Regions from separate parts of the Homo sapiens genome. Here region 2 is linked to region 1. The links come from fine-mapping of genetic effects on gene expression. A gene starts in region 1. The other region holds a variant in brackets. All regions are shown on one strand. Distances are between the middles of the regions.

What was found. PIP is the estimated chance that this variant, and not a neighbour inherited with it, causes the effect.
Region 2: its variant is fine-mapped to the expression of ELOVL4 in testis (GTEx, PIP 0.95).

Annotation. Positions count from the first base shown.
Region 1 is chr6:79,941,469-79,953,841 of GRCh38, reverse strand. It overlaps ELOVL4 (ELOVL fatty acid elongase 4), which reads left to right and starts at 6,289. Exons shown (of 6, transcript NM_022726.4): 1 at 6,289-6,662. The coding sequence starts at 6,563. It overlaps LOC124901350, which reads left to right and starts at 4,209. Exons shown (of 2, transcript XM_047419628.1): 1 at 4,209-4,274; 2 at 5,831-6,455. The coding sequence starts at 6,027. The coding sequence ends at 6,455. It overlaps LOC124901351 (a long non-coding RNA gene), which reads right to left and starts at 6,037. Exons shown (of 3, transcript XR_007059656.1): 1 at 5,915-6,037. It also overlaps the pseudogene GAPDHP63. RefSeq lists a silencer at 6,180-6,229.
Region 2 is chr6:79,882,799-79,895,171 of GRCh38, reverse strand. No RefSeq gene overlaps it. Among named protein-coding and RNA genes, the nearest start is that of ELOVL4, 59 kb to the left of the region's middle. The variant T/C (reference allele first, on the strand shown) is at 6,495.

The DNA.
Region 1 (12,373 bases):
TGGCACCGTCAAGGCTGAGAACGGGAAGCTTGTCATCAATGGAAATCCCATCACTATCTTCCAGGAGCCAGATCCCTCCAAAATCAAGTGGGGTGATGCTGGCACTGAGTATGTCATGGAGTCCACTGGCATCTTCACCACCATGGAGAATGCTGGGGCTCACTTGCAGTGGGGAGCCAAAAGGGTCATCATCTCTGCCCCCTCTGCTGATCCCCCCATGTTCACGATGGGTGTGAACCATGAGAAGTATGACAACAGCCTCAAGATCATCAGCAATGCCACCTGAACCACCAACTGCCTAGCGCCCCTGGCCAAAGTCATCACTGACAACTTTGGTATCGTGGAAGGACTCATGACCACAGTCCACGCCATCACTGCCACCCAGAAGACTGTGAATGGCCCCTCCAGGAAACTGTGGCGTGACAGCCACAGGGCTCTCCAGAACATCATCCCTGCCACTACTGGGCTGCCAAGGCTGTGAGGAAGGTCATCCCTGAGCTGAATGGTAAGCTCACTGGCATGGCCCTCCGTGTCCCCACTGCCAACGTGTCAGTGGTGGACCTCACCTACCATCTGGAAAAACCTGCCAAATATGATGACATCAAGAAGGTGGTGAAGCAGGCATCAGAGGGCCCCCTCAAAGGCATCCTGGGCTACACTGGGCACCAGGTGGTCTCCTCCGACTTCAACAGTGACACCCACTCTTCCACCTTCAATGCTGGGGCTGGCACTGCCCTCAACGACCACTTTGTCAAGCTCATTTCCTGGTATGACAATGAATTTGGCTACAACAACAGGGTGGTGGACCTCATGGCCCACATGGCCTCCAAGGAGTAAGACCCCTGGACCACCAGCCTCAGCGAGAGCACAGGAGGAAGAAAGAGGCCCTCACTGTTGGGGAGTCCCTGGCACACTCATTCCCCACCACACTGAATCTTCCCTCCTCACACATTCCATGCACACCCCTTGAAGAGGGAGGGGCCTAGGGAGCCCCATGTTGTCGTGTACCATCAATAAAGTCCCCTGTGCTCAGCCAAAAATAATAACAATCATAATAGTTTAGGCAGAAAGGATAACATAAGTAAAAAAAAAAACTTGTAAAGCAGCCAGAAATAATTGAATTTTAACATTCACAGGCCACAAAAAGAGGAGAAACCGACAAGGATGAGAAAGAGGGAACAGATATATAAGTGATGTTACAGAAGTCAATGTTTTCCCTCAGTTGTTATTCACATTTGCTTTTGTGTATAGTGTGTATGGATTCTTCAGGTTCAAGACAGTTTCTCCAAGATCAGAGGGGGGTCATTTATCTTTGTATGGTTCACAGGCAGGTGAGTCCTACTGCAAAGTTGCTGAGTCCATAAAATTATGGTTCATTTACTGGAAAGTTTTTAAGCATTTATTCACATATAACCATTTTCCTTAAGAAGCATTCCTGGGTCATCGGGATGGCTGGTAGGAGATAGCTTCTGGAATCAACTAAATGCTTGCCTAGAACCAAGTATTTTTCTGATGTCTTGGGTTTTTAAAAGTAAGTCCTTGAAATACAGCTGGTTTCTTTCCTCTATCATGGTGAGTTTATTTCCCCTCAGGCTCTTTTTATCTTCTCCTACCCTGAAACCAGATTGCTCTTCAGTAATAGGAATATGAGAGCAGGGTGAAAAGGCATTCCCCATTAACACTTGGAATTTATTACCAGATTTCTTGGACCAAAGTTTGTTGATATCCATGAAGACAGATATGTTAGAGTAGTAAGTGAAGGAAATCACAACTCAGACAATACTCAATTAAGAGTGACAAAACTTTTCTTGGTATAGCCAAGCCAGGAAAAACGGGCAGAACCACCATGGTTTGGCCCTCTTATCACTATATGCTTGAATGTATGACTAAAAGTGTGGGATATGGCCTTGAAACATGGCTATGTGAAGAGAGACTGGGCTAATGGCTTTGACCGGTAAAGAATACAGATTGGGTGTACATATTGGGTCACACCAAAACAATGAATATCCAATGTAAGTAATTTGTAGTTGTCATTCTTAGGAAAGGAGTAGCATATGTACCTTAGAAATATGCATCAGGGGTTGCAAAGCTGAGAAGGCATTCTGATATATGATTCTGGTGGAGGTGGTGGCGGGTGAACCTAACTTATTCCCAGCATTCAATATGCCTAGTTGAAAATCATTATAATAAATTTAGTAAGAGACAAATAGCAAACTGGGAAAATATATTTGCAACATATGCAGACAAACTGTTAATAACTTTATTATAAGAAGATGTCTTATAAATCAATAAGAAAAAGTAGACACAACTAATGGAAAATGTCTAAAGAATTCAAACAGGCAATTCCTGAAAGAAGGCTAAAATTGCAATAAACATGATAATCTGTCAAGCAACAATGAAATATCAATCTTTACCTCTCAGACTGGTAATGATTACAAAGCATACATTCAGTAAAGAGAATGGGGTGGGGAAATGAGCACCTTTTCATAAATTTTGGTGGAATTGTGAATTGGTACATTTCTGGAGGTTAAGTGGGCACGATGTGTCAAAATTTGTAAACTTAAAACCCTTTGACCAGGTACAGTGGCTCACACCTGTACTCCCAGCACTTTGGGAGGCCAAGGCAGGCAGATCACATGACACCAGGAGTTTGAGACTAGCCTACCTAACATGGTGAAACCCTGTCTCTAATAAAAATACAAAAATTAGCTGGGTGTGATGGCACACACCCGTAATCCCACCTACTCGGGAGGCTGGGGCATGAGAATCCCTTGAACCCGAGAGGCAGAGGTTGCAGTGAGCCGAGACTGGGCCACTGCACTCCAGCTTGGGCGAGACAGTGGGATGCCGTCTCAAAACAAAAACAACCACCTCTCCACCCCTAAAAAAAGTCCCAAACCTTTGACCCAGAAATTTCCCTTGTAAATATTTATGCTAAGAGTTATTAAACAAGTGCACAAAATTGCATATTGTGGATACTAATAGCCCAATTGATACAGTAGTTCAAATTTGAAACAATCTAAATGCTAATCTATAGGGTAAATGGCTACATAAATGAGTGTGTATCCATATAATGGAATATTAAGTACTTGGTATTACGTTGAAAAGTATTCCTGATGTATTAAATTTTTAAAAAAGCAGATTATAGAGTAGCATTATTTTAAAAAACCATCTGTGTTAAGAAAAAAAGGCTTATATAGGCATGTAAAATTTATTTAGAATGGGAGACAAAATTATAGGGGGGATTTTCATTTTGTTTCTTTTTTTGTTATTTTATCTGTGCTAATGTATTATCAGGATAATCTATGTCCATTTAAATAAAATAAAAATAATTCATACAAGCTAACAAAAAGGTAAACATCTTTAAAAGTTTGAATGAAACATATCTCGTGGAAAACATTGTAATTCCAAGTTAGTCAAGCACCTGTGTTATATGATGGCTATAACGTGGGGGAGGAGTAATGAGCAGAATAAAACAAAAGACTGGAACTAATAGTAGTTAGTGTTATCAACAATTTTCTCCATTTTCTCTAAGTAGCATCCATGTAGCAAAATTTACTTCTAGAAGATTCAAAGTCTTTCTCTACAACTCTTTAATTAGGTTATTTCTTTTTACTCCTGACTCAACAGGCTTCCAGGTTCACTTTTCTTTGAAAGCAGAGGTTGCTGACAATATTACCAACATGGAAAGGTGGACTAGGAAAAAAAAGATGGATAGCTTGATTTATGTTGCTAACCTTGTATGGACTGTAGGACATTTAAAAATATTTTGTACTGGGTGTGGTGGCTCACTCCTGTAATCCCAGTGGTTTTGAAGGCCAAGGCAGGAGGATTGCTTGCAGGCAGGAATTTGAGACCAGCCGGGGCAACACAGCCAGTCCTCCTTCTCTATCAGCTATTTAGGAGGCTGAGGCAGGAGGATGAGGCAGGAGGATAGCTCGAGCCCAGGAATTCGATGTTGCACTAACCTATGATTACACCACTGCAATCCAGCCTAGCTGATAGAGTGAGACCCTGTTTCTAAAAAGAAAAAAATATTGCTATTTTATACAAAAAAATTTATGATAAAATGTCCTCTCCTTTAGGTTTTGTAGGTAACTGTATCCTATTTGCATTTGATCCACATGAAAGAACTCTGTTCTCAAAGTTTGCAGATGCTGTTGTTGCTTGTATTTGCTTTTACTCTGTTATGATGCTACCAAGATTTTGGTTAGATGGCTGTTATTCTAGGTGGCAGACATGCGGGTTTCCCTCCCTTTGCACAACTAAACAAGGTAGGCTTTGGTTCTGGGCAGTCACTGGTATTTACAAACCACTTATTCATGCCAGGTAATAGGGTTCCAGATTGGGTAAGTTTTATGTTCTGGTTCTTGGTATATGTTTAGACAGCTTATAAATGTAAATAAACATTCTACTCTTACAGGTGGAGTGTGGACACGGTGATATCCGTGTGACCGCCATTCCCAGCTGAAGGTTATCTCATCTATGATTTTCTTATACGTGACTGGCACCCCCTAGTGAATAGGGACTTAAGTTGACCTCCACGGTAGAAGAAATACCAGGGAAATACCTGAAGCTGTTTTAACAATTTCTCCTTGTATTAAGTATTATGCTGCAGTTTTGCGTGTGTGAATGGAAGTATGGGTAGAGATCTGTTCTCCCTAAAAACTCCAGGATTCCACAATATAGAAATAGTAATCAAATTTTTAGGTGAAGCTCGAACTAATCCGAACTTTGTTAGATCATCACTGTAAATGAATGGGTATTTATCCACTCCCTAAATGAAGAGACTTGACTGGATTTCTTTTTTTTATATAGCTACTAGAATCTGTTACACATAATTTAGGATTGAGACTTGAGAAATTGTCATTCCAATCCAGAAAACTTTAGATTTGCAAATATATTTGACAAATTAATAAATTAACATTTTATTTGGTTAATTTCAAGAATAGGGCATTTAAAGAAGTCTGTGTTTGCTTTAGTTCGGCAATAAAGTTCCTGCCACTCACAATAATCCTTATTATTCTCTGAAAGACATGTTATATTTTTGTCATCATAAATATTTATTAATTACTGTTTATAGCACTGGGTTAGGTACTCATCAAGCAACCAAAAATAATTCTTACCATCTAGGATGCTTCCAATATAAAATATAGACAATATATAACCAGGTCAATTGGGAAATAGATCATTTCAGTATGATAAAAGATAGTATTCACATTAACAGTGTGAAAGGGCAGGAACAATAAGACACTTGACTCACTGGTCTTTAAAATGTAGCATCCAAAATGAGCAAGTGGAGAAAAGGTTAAACAAGTAGGTGACACATTTAAAAAACAAGTAGATGAAAGGACTATTCTCAAAAATCTTGTTTTATGTGAGAAACCATCAAATTATGAATTCCAAGTACTGTATTTTTTTTACTTTTCAAGGGTAGGCTCTCCTATACCTTATCTAAACAATTTTTCAAAATAGCCACAATTACTTTGTTTTCCTCTCTACACTAAATTGCCCTTTGCCTCTTGAGCGATTATCTTTTTCAGATTCACCTCAACTTCTTCAGGTTCAAGCGGACTTCACCTGTAAGCCCCTCTCGGTTCTCCCTCTTCTCTGAACTACTAATGGCCTAATTTAGCACAATTATATTGCTTTGTTCATTCCATGTATAGTAAAAGAGTCTACAAAACACATGCAAGCATTCATGCAATTATATGTTGATTTGTTCATGGGTCGACCCCAAAGTCTATTCTCCATCGCTGAAGCATGGAAGACAAATACCCTTCACTTCTTCAGAGGCATAACACATGCACTTCTCTTGTCATGGTGACAGGCATGTGCTGGTGGAGGTCAAAGAAACAGGAACACAAGTGAAATCGAGGTGAGTGTCAGGTAAGGACCAAAGCACCACGCCTACCTCATCTTTGCCCACAGAACACCCATTCTTCCCGTGTCCTGTTTCCCAGGACGTATCCGGGGCGGATAAGAAATCACCCGTGGGGAGGCGGTGAACTCCTCCGCAGGGGCCGATGCCCGGGACAGGGGCGGGGAAGGCTAATGAGGCGACTTGTGCGGGGAGGGGCCAAGGAGGAGCCCAGGTGTCCCGCTCCCGCTCGACGGCGCGCGCCTGCGCGAGCCCAGTTGGCGTCGCACCCTTGAGCGCAGCATCCCTACGCCAGCGAGTCCCAATACTAGGGAGGGAGGGAGGGAGGAGGGGCGGCCGGCCCCCCGCCCCCGCGCGCGGCCACGTGACGCCGGCTGAGGAGATTGGAGGGGCGGCTGCGCGAGGCTGCAGACTGGTGCAGCGCACTGTGCTGGCGGCTGGGCCTCCTCCACCTCCTCGTCTTTCTCCCGGGAACCTTGACGACGCCTTCCGCTTGGCCCTGCCTTCTGCCGCATCCCCGCCGCCGCGGCGCCTTGAGGAGCAGGAGAAGACGCAGCCGGGCCGCCGCCGTTAGAGGGGTTCCCGGCCGCCGCTCGCCCCGTCGGCCGCCACCGCCTCCGGGGTCAGCCCTCTCTCTGGGTCTCCGCTTTCTCCTGCCGCCAGCGCCCGCTCATCGCCGCGATGGGGCTCCTGGACTCGGAGCCGGGTAGTGTCCTAAACGTAGTGTCCACGGCACTCAACGACACGGTAGAGTTCTACCGCTGGACCTGGTCCATCGCAGGTAAAGCCGCTGACTTCCCCATCCTCGCTCGGTCCCCCGCGGGGGGTCACCGGCCCCTGGTCTCGCAGCTCCCGGGCCCGGCCCCACAGGCCCCCGCGCCCTGCGGCTTTCGGATGCTGCGGATCAGCGGAGGGGCCGGCGCGGGCACTGCGGTTGAGCACTGGTTAATCTGATCCGAATGTTAAGGCCTCCCCTCCCCCGACACTCGCAGGGTTTTCTTCTGAGCTCCCTCCATCTCTCATCAGCTCTCGGATGCGGGAGCTGACATATCAGATGGAGCCTGTGCAGCCAGGAGCTCCTCGCAGGAGCCGCCCCACCCTGTGCTCCCACATCTCCCGAGCTCGCCTCCCTCTTCCCCGTGCACAGGATTCCTTTTAACATTTAGTCCTATTTTGTATGGAGAGCGGGCTGGGGAGGAAGGAGGGCTTCAGGGGCAGCTGAAGGTACAGGAGGTTTCTTCAGCCTCCTGGTCGCTTTGACAGAACCCTGCTAATCTTTTCTTCTATCTAGCTCCTTCATCTATAGTATAATTCGGACTGAAAAGTAAAATAATATTGTTTGGCTCCTTGAACCTTGAAGAATGTTAGTTTCCGAGGCATTTTCAACAGCAAATATGTTTGAAGTGATTGTCTATAATGGCTTTGCGCACTGCAGTGCAGTCAGGGGGAGGGGGAGGCCAAAACACCGGGGAAGAAATCAGTCTTTAGGAAGGGGGTCTCTACAGCAACACCTAGAGGTTGTCCCAGATGCCTACATATATACAGTTCTTAAATCAGCAAACTTTTCTTTAGCTGTTGCAGTTAATTTGGCAGGGCTGTCAATTGTTTGATTTATGCAGCTTTCCTAGCGTCCAACTGTGATATTATATTTTTACATTGTACTGTTTATTTCTTCATTTGCTTCGCTGCTTTTGATTTTAAAGCATTTAAAAGTCTTTGAAATCTAAAATAAGGTTTAAAGGATTTCAGAAATGATTTTACGAGGTCAATTTTTCTGGTCCTTTTGCAGTATCACACTGCATCCTATCAGTGAAGGATATTAACGTTCCATCTTATGACTCTGCCTTCCCTACTTCGAAATGAAAATGTACTCCTGTAGTTTTTGTGTTCATTGTTGTTAGAGGAAATTAGACAGTGGTTACAGCATGAATGTAGTCCGATACATAGGGCTTATGTTTTGGGAAAAACGTATGCTGGAATTATTTTTGTGAGAGACAAAATGATTATTTGGCATTAATACTGCATTCACTTCTTTAGAAAAGTATGTTCTTTTTCAGAAGATCTCAACTTTGACACTGGGAAATAAGCTATTTAATAAGCCATTACAGCTGAAAATGGTTAAAAGGCAGTTTTCAATGGAGTGTTTCTTCAGTTTTTTTTTTTGTTTCTATGCGCTATTACACTGATGTTACACTGTACCTGCAAAAACTGGGAAAGATGTGCCCTTCCCTTCACGTCTGTGATTTCGGTTCTTTAAACGTTGCATCAGGGCTTCCCATTACACAATTGTATAGAGCTGAACATCAGACAAGTTCTTTAGCAGGTAATTGCACTTCGCACACCTAGGAGTCAGACACTGTTGAGATACTCCAGTCTCCATATAGCCAGAGCCACACCCAGGAGTTCTCGGTCCTGTCATTCCTATCCTATCCCGGAGCTTTCCCATCTCTTGAGTCTCAGAAGGAAAAATTGAGGGCAAAGGTAGAATACACCTTTCTGTGATGGTGAATTCCTTCCTGATGATGTTTGTGTAAAAGAAACCACACACACACAAATGAAACAGGAAATTTTGTGCAGTTGCCGCATGTGAAAGCTTGCTACTAGGCTTCGAAGGGCATATAAAATAATATAATATTGTGGGCCAAGCCTGAGAAGTGAGAGTAGCCTTAGAACACAAGTGACCTCTCACTAGCAGGCCGAAGGAAGGTATTTGCCTATGCTTTGACTATCCACTTACGAAACCTGAGACTGCTTCCTTGCTTTCTGTAATGAGCTACCTTATGTAGGCAGATGGTATTTCTTAACCAACAGAGAGGCTTAGTGGATATAGTCTGTTCTGCTGTACTGCTGTGTGAGGAGGAGTATTTTTCAGGTCCAGGCCGAATAGACCTGAAGTCTGTGGTGTCCCATTTACGTTTACTCTCCCTCATTCTATGCCCCTCGTGTTCCTTTTTTTTTTTTTTTTTTTTTTTTGGACTCATTCACTCTGCTCTGATTCCACCTCTCAGCATAATTTGATGAAAATCTGGGTGGGGGATATCAAAATAGAAAAGTAGCTTATAAGATGAGGTTAAACAAAAGTTGGTGAGTCAAATGTTTGGAAAGAAGGGGAAACAGAAATGGGCGGGATAGAAAGATGGTCTTGAGAAATAGTGATGAGTGTGGTGAAAGGATGCAAATTATTGAGGGAGAGCAAGAAATGAGGTAGGCTCCTTGTCCTTGGCTGCTCTCATTCCTAGTGCTGTAGTTACATGCTTCTTTCATTCTTTTATTAATTCATTAAATGCCATTTTGTGCTATTATATCAAATGGTGCTTTAAATATCCAAACATATCCAAAGCAATGTCTGAAAACTGGGCTTTTCAGAGGCACATATGTAGCAAATACAAAATATGGTCCATAATAATGTTAACAACAAAAATGTTACTTTTACTACAGTATTAACACTTTGTACATTGGAATTGAAAGTTTGAAAGAGCTATACTTTTAGAAAAACAACAAAAATAATTTTTATTTCTCTGTATTTGTAGACATTTTGAACGAGGAAATTAGCGTTGGTTTATGTTAAAGTATAGGCTGGTGTAGGACTTTATACTAGTTGTTAGTATTAGAGTAGGTATTCCATGTCATCATGTTAGTTTTTTTCTTCTATTCTTTCACTTCATGAGTACATTTAAATTATTAGGATTGGAGTCCTAGGCTCAACGTATACATCTAATAAAAGTTGTATATACATTTTTTAAACTGATGAATCTAAATATTCCCCAATCTATGAATACCCAACTTATCTACATTATTCATTTATTCATGCTTTTAATAAATGTTTAATAGCTTTTTTGCATACCTGACATTTAGCATATAAACACCCTAGAGAGTTAGTAGGATGCTTACGGTAAAGCCAGGTGTCTCCTGTGAGGCCATGTATCTTCTGACCATTTGTTTCTAAATAGCTGTTGTTCACAGGGTATGGGTGCTGTCTGTTGGTTGGGGGTGGTAATGATTGGCATTGGCCCTCTTTTCGCAGATATAGTACCCTGCATTTTGGTGAAAAAAATTGTCTACTTGGTAGTTGCAGTTAGAACATAACTTGCTGGGTCCTTGAATTAACTTTGGAGGGGTCAGAAAGAAGGGATGAGTGGTACAGGAAGAGGGAGGAGAGCTGTAGGATGACGAAATGTGGAAGCCAGGCTTATGATACCATTTCTTTCCGTATTTACTTGCCATGTACAGGCACAGTTCTAGGCTCTGGAAAGGAAAGGAGGACACTTGGTCACTGCCCTCATGCATCTTGCAAAGTCTAGGGGGTCACTGTCATTCCCCTTTCCTTGATATCATGGTCTGGAGGCAGTGTGATCTGTCAGACTCAGGACTAGCTGGGGCCTAGGGAAGATCAGAAAAGTCCTTCCCTGCTCTTCTCATCTCTACTTCTCCTAAGTGAAAGGAATATACAGTTGTTTTTAGAATATTTTAGCTGTTTCACCACAGTTTACTTCCCTCTACCCTTGAATGAGGAGTTGATGTGAGTACTGTCAGAGTATTTGGAGAGGCATACTAGGGCAAAAGGTGTCAAAGGCAAGGGGAACAGCTTGACTGAAAACCATGGAAACTGGGAAGGTGCTTAAGGGTCAGGCCAGTGAGTCATCCAGGTTTGATGAAGCTGGGGGCTAGTGGGAGGGGATGTTTAACTCAGCTCAAATAAGCTGAAGTAAAAGCAGGTTTGTCTTAGGGATTGCTAGGTCCCAGAGGAGCATGTATTTTAAGTATTGTACAGTATGCTTACATTAATTTTATTATTCGTCACAGTTAATGTTTAGTTTTTCATCTATGTTATTATCTAAAATAGGTTTATTTGTTTGGCTAAGCCTGGTAATGCAGTTTTCTTTGAATGTTTCTTTGAGAAAAGACATTCTGATTCCAAGTTGTAGGCAGCTAATTAAAAAAAAAAAAGAAAGAAAGAAACATCACCAGCTCCTAACATGGGATCTCCCTTGGTCACTGTTTTCAGTGACGTCCTAATTATCCTTTACTCATAAGCTCCTTGAAGCCTCTGGGATGTCCATGCCATTTTATGGTTTTTTGTTTTGGTTTGGTTTTTATTGTCTTTTCCTTCACCACAGTTTGATTTTTGGTGGTAGACTGCTAGACTTTAATAGCTAATGCTCTTATCCATTCCCCAATGATAGCATAAAGTAAAACATCCTATTGCAGATGGAATTCCAGGAGGGTAAACAATGCAGGTTCTAAAACGGGTGTCAGGACACAGTTTTAACTATTTTAACTTAGATTCTTTGGCTTAGGAAGACAAAGTTTTAAGAATTATGCAGATAATTATATCAGATGGCACTTTTGTAAACTTAAGAGCCACAGAGCACTTGGTCATCCTTTAAAAATTCAATTTGTTTTCTTATTTTTTTGCTCAAGTCCTGTGGATAATGTCACCTGTAAATGCTTTAACATTATTAACGTAAGTATTTTCATTTGTTAAGCCACTTATTATTCTGAATTAGGCATATATTAGCACACCGAAATGAGTAGTGTAACAGTCTATCTTTTTTCACTTTAGATGTTTTTTTCGTCTTCATTATCAGGACATTTTGCCTGTTAACAAACGAAGGTACTATTGTTTTATTTTCTATTAGAATATATATTTTAAAATCATGTGGGTTTGGATTTCAGAAAGGAGATGGGAGGAAACACATGGCCTTTTAAAGCCAAGGTCCACATTAACTTTCTCGCTTGATCCTTCAGTATTCCCCTGCCCAAAGACCTGCAGCTCTAGCCAACTGGGATAACTCACTGACCCTTAAGTAAAATGTGTACATGTCCACCTTTATGTTTCTCATCCCACCATTCCCCTTGCCTTTACCCACCTTTTCCCTGTTTACCTCTCCAGATACCTTTTACCAGAACCCAGTACAATAGTCCTCCTTTGCAAAGCCTTTCTTGTTTATGGTACCCTGGAGCAAGTTGTTGTCTCACAGGAGCTCATTGTCTTTAGTAATTACTCACGTATTTCCTGTGCCATTCCTTCTATGACCCTAGTGTCAAACTGTTTAAACTTTCGTTATTATTTACCACTTCACTCCTTTGTATCTTTCTCTCCAACATCAGAGATTATCACATATATTTGTTGATATGATATGTATCAGGAGATGACCCTCTTAATCTAGCATAATTTTGAATCATGATATATTGTGGTTGCTAAACATGAATAAGGCTTTAGACCACACTAAATTACAGAAGGTTTTTGTTTTTGTTTTTCATAGAGTGGGGATTTCACCATGTTGCCCTGGCTGCTCTTAAACTCCTGGTGTCATGTGATCTGCCCACCTCAGCCCCACAAAGTGCTGGGATTACAGGCACGACCCACTGTGCCCGGCCAGAGAGTTCTTTAAAAGAATGATATTTTTTATGAGTTGGTCATTAATTCAGTTGCCGTTCACTAAATTTAATGAGTAAATCAGGCCATTAAGTCATTTAGAAGCACAAAAC
Region 2 (12,373 bases), 59 kb after region 1:
CTCCAGCAAAATTACTACATCGCCTTAACACTGCCAAATTTCCTAAAGCCTGGCTACTCCTCATGAAAATATTAGGAATCCTACTCAAATTGTTGTGTCACAGATTAGTTGTCACTATTCTTCATTCCTAGGAAGGGTGGGTCCACCCCATTTGAAGGGAAGTGTTGGGATCTACACTACCTTTGCTGAATAGTCTCTTCAAAATTTAAGAGAGATGTGCACATCTTTTTCAGTCCTAAGATAGGAATTTAAACACACACACACACACACAAATTTCAGTAGTATATACTTTCTGAAAAAGTAGGCTTACATGATTGCTATAGTCCTGTGTAAATGAATAGAGGATGTCCAATGTAATGACAACCTTTTTCTCTTCCCCAGAGCTTGGGAATCTAAAGCAAGAAAAATTTCATTTTGTGGAACAAATATTTAAGCCAGAATTCATACAATGTTGTTGATGGTAGTAATCTTTGGATGCCACAATGAGTGAAAGAGGAGGAAGGAAAGATCAAACAAACCTAAGTGCAGTCGGGAGATAAATCATCTGAGATTCTATCCTTTGCCAGGTTATACAACTCAATGCAGGATATAAATTTTGTTTAAAAGAATATCTCCTCCTAGAAGTCTAAATATAAAGATTGGATTTCTAGGATTTGTTCCCTACATTTTCTGTCCCCATTTTCATCATTTTTATCTCTTTTTTCCCACTTACTGAGTTCTAGGTAAAGACAATGAAATCTCATCTTCATTGCCTTCGCCGTGGGTTGTTTTATTTTTTCAATTTTTAACTCTATTAAGGCATGATTTACATCAGCAGTCCCTAAACATTTTGGTACTAGGGACTAGTTTTATGGAAGATAATTTTTCTGTGGTGGGTGGGGGAGGATGTTTTTGTGATGAAACTGTTTCACCTTAGATCTTCAGGCATTAGTTAGATTCTCATAAGAAAAGTGCAACCTAGATCCCTCACATATGCAGTTCACAATAGGGTTCCTACTCCTCTGAGAATCTAATGTCACCATTGATCTGACAGGAGGTAGACCTCAAGTGGTGATGCTTTCTCACTCACTGCTCAACTCCTGCTGTACAGCCTGGTTCCTAACAGGCCACAAACCGGTACAGGTCCACAGCCTGGGGGCTGGGGACCCCTGATTTACATAACTGAATGCATCCATTTTAAGTATGCAGTTGGCTCCAAGGGACCGCTGATTTGCTTTGTCAATGTACATTAGGTTTGTCTTTTCTAGAGTTTCACATAAATAAAATAATATATTTTGTACTCATTTGTATAGACTTTCTTTTGCACAGTATAATGTTTTTGAGTTATCTATATTGTTGTGTAACACTAGCTTGTTCCTTTTTATTGTTGAGTAACATTTTATTGTGTGGACATAAACACAAATTGTTTATTTGTTGACCTGTTGAGGGACATTTGGATTGTATTACGGTTTCAATGAGATTTATCCCCATCAAAATTCATGTTGAAATTTACTTGTCAATATAGCGGTGTTGGGAGGTGGTTCCTTGAAAGGGTGATTAGGTCATTAAAACAGATTAACACTTTTCTCATGAGACTGGGCTAGTTCTTGTGAGAATGGATTAGTTTCCACAAGAGTGGGTTGTTATAAAGGCTACTCCTCCTGTTTGGTCCCTTTTGCACATGCCTACTCACCTTTCTGCTTCTTTGCCATGCTGTGATGTAATATGTGAACCTCACCAGAAGCTGAGCAGTTGCTGGTGCCATGCTCTTCGACTTTCCAGTCACCAGAATCATAAGCCAAATAAACCTCTTTTCTTTATAAATTATACAGCCTCAAGTGTTCTGTTGCAGCAACACTAAACAGACTAAGACAGTTTGCTTCCAATTTTTGACTATATGAATAAAATTGCTGTGAACGTCCATGCACAAGTCTTTGTGTGGCCATATATTTTCATCTTTCTTGGCTAACTTCCTAACAGCAGAACTGCTAGGTTGTATGGCAATTGCATGTTTACCTCTTCAGGAAACTACTAAACTGTTTTTGCAGATGATTATACCATTTTACCTTCCCACCAGCAATGTATAAGAGTTCTACTTCCAGGCCAGGCACGATGGCTCATGCCTGTAATCCCAGCACTTTGGGAGGCTGAGGTGGGCGGATCACGAAGTCAGGAGATTGAGACCATCCTGGCTAACATGGTGAAACCCCGTCTCTACTAAAAATACAAAAAATTAGCCAGGCGTGGTGGTGGGCACCTGTAGTCCCAGCTACTCGGGAGGCTGAGGCAGGAGAATGGCATGAACCCAGGAGGCAGAGCTTGCAGTGAGCCAAGATCATGCCACTGCACTCCAACCTGGGCGACAGAGCAAGACTCTGTCTCAAAAAAAAAAAAAGAGTTCTACTTCCTCTATATCTTCACAAACAATATTGTCAGTGTTTTGTCTTCATTAGTTTATGTTGTTGTTAATTTAAGCCATTCTAATGGGCTTGTAGTGGTATCTCATATTGGCTTTAATTTGTATTTCCCTCATGTTAACAATATTGCACTTCTTTCATGTGCTTCTTTTGTAAAATGTTCAAATCTTTTGCCTATTTTTACATTGGATTGTTTATCTTAGTATTAAGTAGTGTTGTTTAAAATAATCTGGATACAAATTTTTGTCAGATATATGTGTTCCAAATATTTCCCTCAGCCTGTAGCATTTGAAGAGCAGTAGTTTTTTATTTTGATCAAGTTCATTTTATTGATTTTTTTCTTCTGTGTTTAATGCTTCTCGTGTTCTATATAGAAAATCTTTCCATACCAAAAGATCACAAAGACTTTCTCCTATATTTTCTTCTTAAAACCATAGGTCTATAGTTTATTTACAATTAATTTTTGTGTATCATGTGAGATAAGAGTAATTTTTTATTTTTCCTCAAGTAAATATTTAGTTGTGCCAGCAGTATTTGTTAAAAAGACTCCCTCTTCTCTATTTAGTCATATTAGGACCTAGCATACAAAATAATTGAACATATACATGTGAATTTCTACTAGACTCTATTTAATTCTATTGATCTAAATGTTAATCTTTACATCAATACCACAATGTCTTGATTACTATATATTTACAGTAAGTTTTGAAATCAGATAATACAAATGTTTAACTTTTTCTTTTTCAAAACTATTTTGGATATTCTAAGTTCTTTGATTTTCTTCATATACATTTTAGACTCATCTTGTCAGTGACCACAGATAATACTTCTAGGGTTTTTATTGCGATGTTGTTGAATCTATAGATCAAATTTAGGAGAATGCCAACTGACATCTTAACAGTATTAAATCATCTGCTCTAAGTACATTCATATCTCTCCATAAAAATGTGTTTATTAATTCTTCAAGTATCAAACCAAACTTTCCTGATATTAGAATGTGTTGCAGGAAGTCAGGGACCCCGAATGGAGGGACCAGCTGGAGCCACAGCAGAGGAACATAAATTGTGAAGATTTCATTTTAATGTGGACAAATTTTAATTTATCAGTTCCCAAATAATAGTTTTATAATTTCTTATGCCTGTCTTTATTTTAATCTCTTAATCCTGTTATATTCATAAGCTGAGGATGCGCGTCACCTCAGGACCACTGTGATAATTGTCTTAACTGTACAAATTGATTGTAAAACATGTGTGTTTGAACAATATGAAATGAGGGCACCTTGAAAAAGACTGGAATAACAGCTATTTTTAGGGAACAAGGGAAGACAACCATAAGGTCTGACTGCCTGTGGGGTCGGGCAAAAAGAGCCATATTTTTCTTCTTGCAGAGAGCCTATAAACAGACGTGAAAGTAGGGAAGGTATCTCTAAATTCTTTTTCTGGCAAGGAATATTAATATTAATACCCTAGGGAAGGAATGCATTCCTGGTGGGAGGTCTATAAATTGCCGCTCTGGGAATGTCTGTCTTATGCAGTTGAGATGAGGACTGAGATACGCCCTGGTCTCCTGCAGTACCCTCAGGCTTACTAGGGTGGGGAAAAACTCTGCCCTGGTAAATTTGTGGTCAGACCAGTTCTCTGCTCTTGAACCCTGTTTTCTGTTATTTAAGATGCTTATCAAGACAATACGTGCACCACTGAACATAGACCCTTATCAGTAGTTCTGCTTTTGCCCTTTGCCTTGTGATCTTTGTTAGACCCTTACTAGTAGTTCTGCTTTTTGCCTTTTGAAGCATGTGATCTTTGTACCTACTCCCTGTTCTTACACCCCCTCCCCTTTTGCAACCGTTAATAAAAACTTGCTGGTCTGAGACTCAGGCAAGCATCACAGTCCTGCTGATATGTGATGTCATCCCCGGCAGCCCAGCTGTAAAATTCCTCTCTTTGTACTGTCTCTCTTTATTTCTCAGCTGGCCAACACTTATGGAAAATAGAACATAGAACATATGTTGAAATATTGGGGGTGGGTTCCCCCAATAAGAATATTCTTTACTTCATGATCTCTCAACCCATTTTCACAAATACACTTTTGTCTCAAAATTTGTCTCAGATTTGTACTTGACAAATTTGTGTTTGAGACAGAATTTGTCAAATTTGTGTTTGACAAATTTTGTCTCAAACACAAATTTATCTCACCCTAGTTTCACAAATAAATTTTTTTCTCAATTCATTCTTAATTTAGAAAATTCAGAAATTTTCTAAAACTGTCTCTTTTCTTCTTTGAGTAAATCTATTTAAAAGAAAGGCATTTCAATTTATCATGCAAAGCCATTCTCTCCTTCAATCAATATGGAAGTATTTCTGTTTGCTCATTCAGAACAAATCCCATTATGCTGGATTTCTGCTAGTTAAAGCCATGTGTTCTGGGAGAAGGAAGGGAGAAGTTCCTCCTTGGTGTTGGATTTTTCTTTGTTGTGTTTATGTCCTCTAGGATGAAGCCCACCACAACAATTTTTTGGCTTTTCATTGCCTGCCGTTATATACTTGAGTCTCATGGTATAAGTGGAGTGCTTTAGAGTCTGTATCACTTAAATTTGATGCACTTTGTTCTTTCACAAGAGGGAAATTGAGTTAGCCCTTTATGTCTCCATACTTGTATTTCATCCACATTATAATAAAAATGTAGTCTTTCCTCTAACATTGTTTTGTTTGTTTTGTTTTGAGACAGGGTCTCACTCTGTCACTCAGGCTGGAGTGCAGTCTCACTGCAGCCTTGACCTCATGGGCTCAGGTGATCCTCCCACCTCAGCCTCCTGAGTAGCTGGGACTACAGGCATGTGCCACCATGCCTGGCTAATTTTTTTAGATAGGAGATTTTGCTATGTTACCCAGGCTAGTCTTGAACTTCAAGACTCAATCAGGCTGCCCACCTCAGCCTCCCAAAGTGCTGAGATTACAGGTGTGAGCTACCATGCCTGGCAATAACATTGTTGATCCAAATTTACTTTTTATTACTGATAGTTGGGATATATAATATATGCAGCTTCACACACAGATATACTCACTGCTACAATCACAGAAATTCTGTTAAGTTACATCTTGTACAAATACCATCAAGAAAGAAATTAATGTATGGCGTGTTCTCTGTGTTAGCAAGCATATTATTAACAGGAATGTACTTCCATTTTTACTAGTATTGAATCCTTGGCTTATAATTTTTATATCAGTTTTATGCTTCTGAAAATTAAAATAATTTTCCTCTGGCTTGCTTTTGGCTTCATACAAACTTTGTTTTACTTTCCATCCCAAAGGTACTGTAATATATGTTTCAAAGCTTGTTGTAACGTTCTGCTCTACAGCTTCAGTCATAAAACTCAGTAAGCCAGCACAGTGGTAGTAGAATATCCCTGAAAGCCATTCCTACACAAGCAGAGCTAGCAATAACTACACCTTAACTCATCCTCTCCTTAGCCATATCTCCAAAATGATGACAGCTTCTTCAACACTACCCTCAGTGGTCAGGGAGAAGGTCAGAGTGGAAAGAGAGTGCACTTAACCTACTACAGCTAATTTTTTAAAAATAATATCAACTTATATTTTAGATTCAGGGGATACATGTGCAGGTTTGTTACGTGGGTATATTATGTTAGGCTGAGGTTTGGGGTACTGTTGAATCCATCACCCAGGAAGTTATCATTGCACCCAACAGCTAGTTTTGGGAGTTTTTTGTTTGTTTGTTTTTTAAATTAACAGCTAGTTTTTCAACCTTTGTCTCCCTCCTTCCCTCCCCCCCCGTCTAGTAGTACCCAATATTTACTGTTGCCATCTTTATGTCCATTGAATACTCAATGTTTAGCTCTCACTTACAAGTGAGAACATGTGTATTTGGTTTTCTGTTCCTGCTTTAATTCACTTGGGATAATGGCCTCCAGCTGTATCCATGTTGCTGCAAAGAACATGGCTTTGTTCTTTTTTATGGCCAGCATTGTAAATATTTTTTACGTTTACAAGTTTTACCAAAATATATAAGCATGTAAACACATCTCTAGGGTTCCTCCAGGCCTTTGAAAAGGATATAATAAAATAATAAAAATTAAGC[T/C]TCATTCGCTTTGTGATAAATCTGCCTCAATATTCAATAAACAATTTGTTGAATAAGTGAGTGAATAAATGAACAAAATAATTTTCCTTGCAGAAGGCAGCCAAACTTTTGTGAACTGTATAACATTAGCAATGAAAGAATGTTTGGCGAAGTCCTTGGGACCCTTTCTTTGCTGACATATATGATGTTTGTTTTTAATCAATGTCATTTTAGTTGGAAATGATAAATTTCCTCTCACCTGATTGAAATAATTGGGGCTGTTATTTTTCCTTTCAGCACTTTCAGCAATCCAAAAAAGGAGGAAATAAAATTAGTCCACCTGGTTCGATAGAGAAGAAATGTTTCAAATACTAAGACTAACATCTATCCCTTAGCAAAGGAAGGTGAAGAAGCCATTCAAGATACCAACAGTGGATACACAGACTTATTAAAATGTGTACATAAAAACTCTAGTCATGTTTAAGGTGTAAATGGCTGACAATAGTCATTATTCATCTATCAATAATCTATCTTCTGTCTGTCATCATCTATCAATCCATCTGTCTATCAAACGTTAATCTGTCTTTGTATTCCCAGCTTTCCTTTCCATCCACTTGTTTATAATCTAAGTAACTTCTGAGTATTCACCCATCCTCCTCTCCCTGCCCCCTACCCCCTCACCAATTTATATGTTTCAAGTGGAACTTGTGACCCCTTTCTGGCTCACCAGGTTATTCTGTCACTCCTGTTATAGTAATTGGTCTACAAATGGGCATGAAGACCTAGCTGGGCCAAGCAGAGTCAGCCCTGTGACTTTCTGGCACTACTGGGGAAGAGGAGCTTTCTGCTAAAGTTGTTCATCTGGTAGAATATAAAGCAGACACTGAGAAACACTCTTGCCACTATGTGGAGAGAGGCTGCCTTAGGATGAAGTTAACACAAAAAAATGCATAGTTGAGAGATGGTGTGTAAGTCCATTTTACGTTGCTCTAAAAGAATACCACAGACTGGGTAATTTTTAAAGAATAGAAGTTTATTTGGCTCATGGTTCTGAAGGCTATGAAGTCCAAAAGCTTGGCATGGCACCTGGTGAGGGGCCTTTCTGCTGTATCACCCCAAGGTAAAAGGTGGAAGGGCAAGACAGCGCAAGAGTGAGCAATCAAGAAAAGGTTGAACTTGCTTTTATAACAACTCAGTCTCAACGTAACCCTTCCCTGAAATAACAACAGTAATCCACTAATGAGAGCAAAGCCCTCAGCCCTCATGACCTAATCACCTCTTAATGGTCCCACCTCTTTTTTTTAATTTTTAATTTTTGTTGGTACATACTAGGTGTATGTATTTATTGGGTACGTGAAATGTTTTGATACAGGCATATGCAATGTGAAATAAGCACATCATGGAGAACAGGGTATGCATCTGTCAAGCATTTGTCTTTTGTTTTACAAACAATCCGATTACACTCTTTTAGTTATTTTGAAATGTACAGTTAAATTATTATTGACTATAGTCCTGCTGCTGTGCTATCAAATACTGCATCTTATCTATTCTTTCTATTTTTTTAACCCATTAACCATCCTCACCTCTCTCTCACTCCCTGACCACCCTTCTCAGCCTCTGGTAACCATCCTTCTATTCTCTATCTCCATGAGTTTAATTGTTTTTATTTTTAGATCCCACAAATAAGTGAGAACATTGAATAGTTGTTTTTCTGTGCCTGGTTTATTTTACTTAACATAATGATCTCCAGTTCCATCCATGTTGCAAATGACAGGATCTCATTCTTTTTATGGCTGAATAGTAGTACTCCATTGTGTTCAAGTCCTACATTTTCTTTATAGATTCACCTGTTGATGGAAATTTAGGTTGTTTCCAAATCTTGGCTATTGTGAACAGTACTGCAACAAATATGGGAGTGCAGATATCTCTTTGATATTCTGATTTCATTTCTTTTGGTTAGATACCCAGCAGCGGGATTGCCAGATGGTATGGTAGCTCCATTTTTAGTTTTTTGAGGCACCTCCAAACTGTTCTCCATAGCGGTTGTACTAATTTACATACCCACTAACAGTGCTTAAGGGATTCCTTTTCTCCACATCCTCACCAGCATTTGTTATTGCCTGACTTTTGGATAAAAGACATTTTAACTGGGCTGAAATGATATCACATTGTGATTTTGATAGGCATTTCTCTGATGATCAATGATGTTGAATACCTTTTTATATGCCTGTTTGCCAATTGTATGTCTTCTTTTGAGAAATGTCTATTCAAATCTTTTGCCCATTTTTTGATCAGTTATTAGATTTCTTTTCCTATAGGGTTTTTTTCCTTATATATTCTAGTGTTCAATCCCTTGTCAGATGAGTAGTTTTCAAATATTGTCTCCAATTCTGTGGGTTGTTTCTTCACTTTATTGATTGTTTCCTTTGCTGTGCAGAAGCTTTTTAACTTGATGTGATCCCATTTGCCCATATTTGCTTTGGTTGCCTGTGATTGTGGGTATTGCTCGAGAAATTTTTGCCCAGACCAATGTCCTGAAAACTTTCCCCTATGTGTTCTTACAGTAGTTTCATGGTTAAAGGTCTCAGAGTTAAGTCTTTAAGCAATTTTTTTTTTATTTTTGTATATGGCAGGAGATAGGGGACAAGTTTCATTCTTCTGCTATATAGATATTCAGTTTCTCCAGCACAATTTTTGAAGAGACTGCATTTTCCCTAATGTATGTTCCTGGCACATTTGTCGAAAATGAGTTCACCGTAGGTGTATGAATTTTTTTCTGGTTTCTCTGTACTGTTCCATTGGTCTATGTATCTGGTTTTTTGTTTGTTTGTTTGTTTTGTTTTGTTTGTTTGAGACAGAGTCTAGCTCTGTCACCCAGGCTGGAGTGCAGTGGCACGATTTCGGCTCAATGCAACCTCCGCCTCCAGGGTTCAAACGATTCTCCTGCCTTAGCCTCCCGAGTAGCTGGGATTATAGGTGCACACCACCACACCTGGCTAATTTTTGTATGTGTCTGTTTTAAGCCAGTACCATGCTGGTTTGGTGACTATAGCTCTCTCATATCACTTGAAGTCAGGTGATGTGATTCCTCTAGTTTTGTTCTTTTTGCTCAGGATAGCTTTGAGTATTCTGGGTCTTTTGTGATTCCATATAAATTTTAGGATTATTTCTTCTATTTCTGTGAAGACTGTCCTTGGTATTTTGATAGAGATTGTATTAAATCTGTAGATTGCTTTGTGTAGTAAGAACAATTTAACAATATTTACTCTTCCAGTCCATGAACATGGACTCTCTTTCAAATTTTGTATCTTCTTCAATTTCTTGAATCAATGTCTTATCGTTATCATTGTAGAGATCTTTCACTTCACTGGTTAATTCCGTCATATTTTATTTTATTTGTAGCTATTGTAAATGAAATTACTTTTTTGATTTCTTTTTCAGAATGTTCACTGTAGGCATATAGAAATGCTACTGATATTTGTATGTTGATTTTGTATCATGCAACTTGACTGAATTTGTTTATCAGTTCCAATAGTTTTTTGGTAGGGAGTCTAGATTTTTCCAAACATGAGATCATAACATCTGTAAACAAGGATAATTTGCCTTCTTCCTTTCCAGTTTGGGTTCCCTTTATTTCTTTCTCTTGTCTGATTCCTTTAGCTAGGACTTCCAGTAATATGTTGAAAACAATGGTGAAAGTGGGTATCCTTGTTGTGTTCTAGACCTTAGAGGAAAGTCTTTCAGTTTTCCCTCATTCCATATGATACTTGCTGTGGGTCTGTCATATATGATTTTTATTATGTTAAGGTATATTCCTTCTATACTCAGTTTTTGGGGGTTTTGATTATGAAGGGATATTGAACTTTAGCAAATGTTTTTCAGTACCAATTGAAAAAAATCTTATGATTTCTGTCCTTCATTCTGTTGATATAATGCATTATATTGATGATTGATTTGCATATGCTGAGCCATGCTTGAATCCCTGGTATAAATCCCACTTGCTCATGATGAATAATCTTTTCAATGTATTGTTGAATTGAGTTTGCTAGTATTTTGTTGATGATTTTTGCATAAATATTACTTGGAGATAGTGGCCTGTAGTTTTCTTTTCTTTTTGATGTGTCTTTGTCTGGTTTTGGTATCAGAGTAATACTGGCCTCACAGAGTGAGTTTGGAAGTATTCCCTCCTCCATTTTTTGGAATAGTTTGAGTAGGACTGATATTAGTTCTTCTTTAAATGTTTAGTAGAAATAAGCAGTGAAGACATCAAGCCCTGGGCTTTTCTTTACTGGAAGACATTTTTATTATGGCTTCAATCTCATTACTTGTTATTGGTCTGTTCACATTTTGGGTTTCTTCATGGTTCACTCTTGTTAGGTTGTATGTGTCTAGGAATTTATCCTTTCCTCTAGATTTTCCAATTTATTGGCCTATAGTTGCTCATAGTAGCCACTAATGATCCTTTTGATTTCTCTGGTATCACTTGTAATGTCTCCTTTTTCATCTCTGATTTTATTTACTTGAGTCTTCTCCCTTGTTTTCTTTACTAGTCTGGCAAGATGTCAATTTTGTTTATCTTTCAAAAAACCAACTTCTTGTTTCAATGATCTTTTGTATTGTTTTCTTCATTTCAAAATTACGTATTTCTGTTCTGATCTTTATTATTTCTTTTCTTCTACTAATTTTGGCTTTGGTCTGCTCTTGCTTTTCTACTTCTTTTTTTTTTAACTTTTATATGTGGGTGTTATATAAGTAAACTCATGTCATGGGGGTTTGTTGTACAGATTATTTTGTCACACTATTACTAAGCCTAGTACCCAATAGTTTTTTTTTTTTATACTTCTCTCCCATCTTCCACTCCCCACCCTCAGGTAGGCCCCTGTTTCTGTTGTTTCTCTTTGGGTTCATGCGTTCTCATCATTTAGTTCCCACTTATAAGTAAGAACATGTGGTATCTGGTTTTCTGTTCAGGCATTAGTTTGCTAAGAAGAATGGCCTCCAGGTTCACCCATGTTTCTGCAAAGGGCTTGATTGCACTCTTTTTTATGGCTGCATAGTATTCCATGGTGTATGTGTACCACGTTTTCTTTAACCAGTCTATCATTGATGGGCATTTAGGTTGATTCCATGTCTTCGCTATTGTGAAGAGTGCTGCAATGAACATACACCTGCTTGTGTCTTTATGGTAGAATAAGTTTTATCCCTTTGGGTATATACACAGTAATGGGATTGCTGGGTCAAACAGTAGTTCTGTTTTTAGCTCTCTGAGGAATCACCACACTGCTTTCCACAATGGCTGAACTAATTTAGACTCTCACCAGCAGTATATAAGCATCATTTTCTCTGCAATCTCACCAGCATCTGTTATTTTTTGACTTTTTAGTAATAGCCATTCAGACTAGTGTGTGATGGTATCTCACTGTGGTTTTGATTTGCATATCTCTAATGAATGGCGATATTGCACTTTTTAATATATGCTTGTTGGCCACATGTATGTCATCTTTAGAAAAGTGTCTGTTCATGTCCTTTTCCCACTTTTTAATGGGGTTGTTTGTTATTTCTTGGAAATCTGTTCATGTTTCTTACAGGTGATGAATATTAGACCTTTGTCACATGCAGAGTTTGTGAATATTTTCTCCCATTCTGTAGGTTGTCCATTTATTCTGCTGATAGTTTCTTTTGCTGTGCAGAGCTCTTAAGTTTGAATAGATCCTGTTTGTCAATGTTTGCCTTTGTTGCAATTGCTTTTGGCATCTTCATCATGAAATCTTTGCCCATTCCTATGTCCAGAATGGTATTGCCTAGGTTGTCTCCCAGGGTTTTTATAGTTTTGGGTTTTACATTTAGGTCCTTAAGCCACCTAGAATTGATTTTTTTATATGAATTAAGGAAGGGTTCCT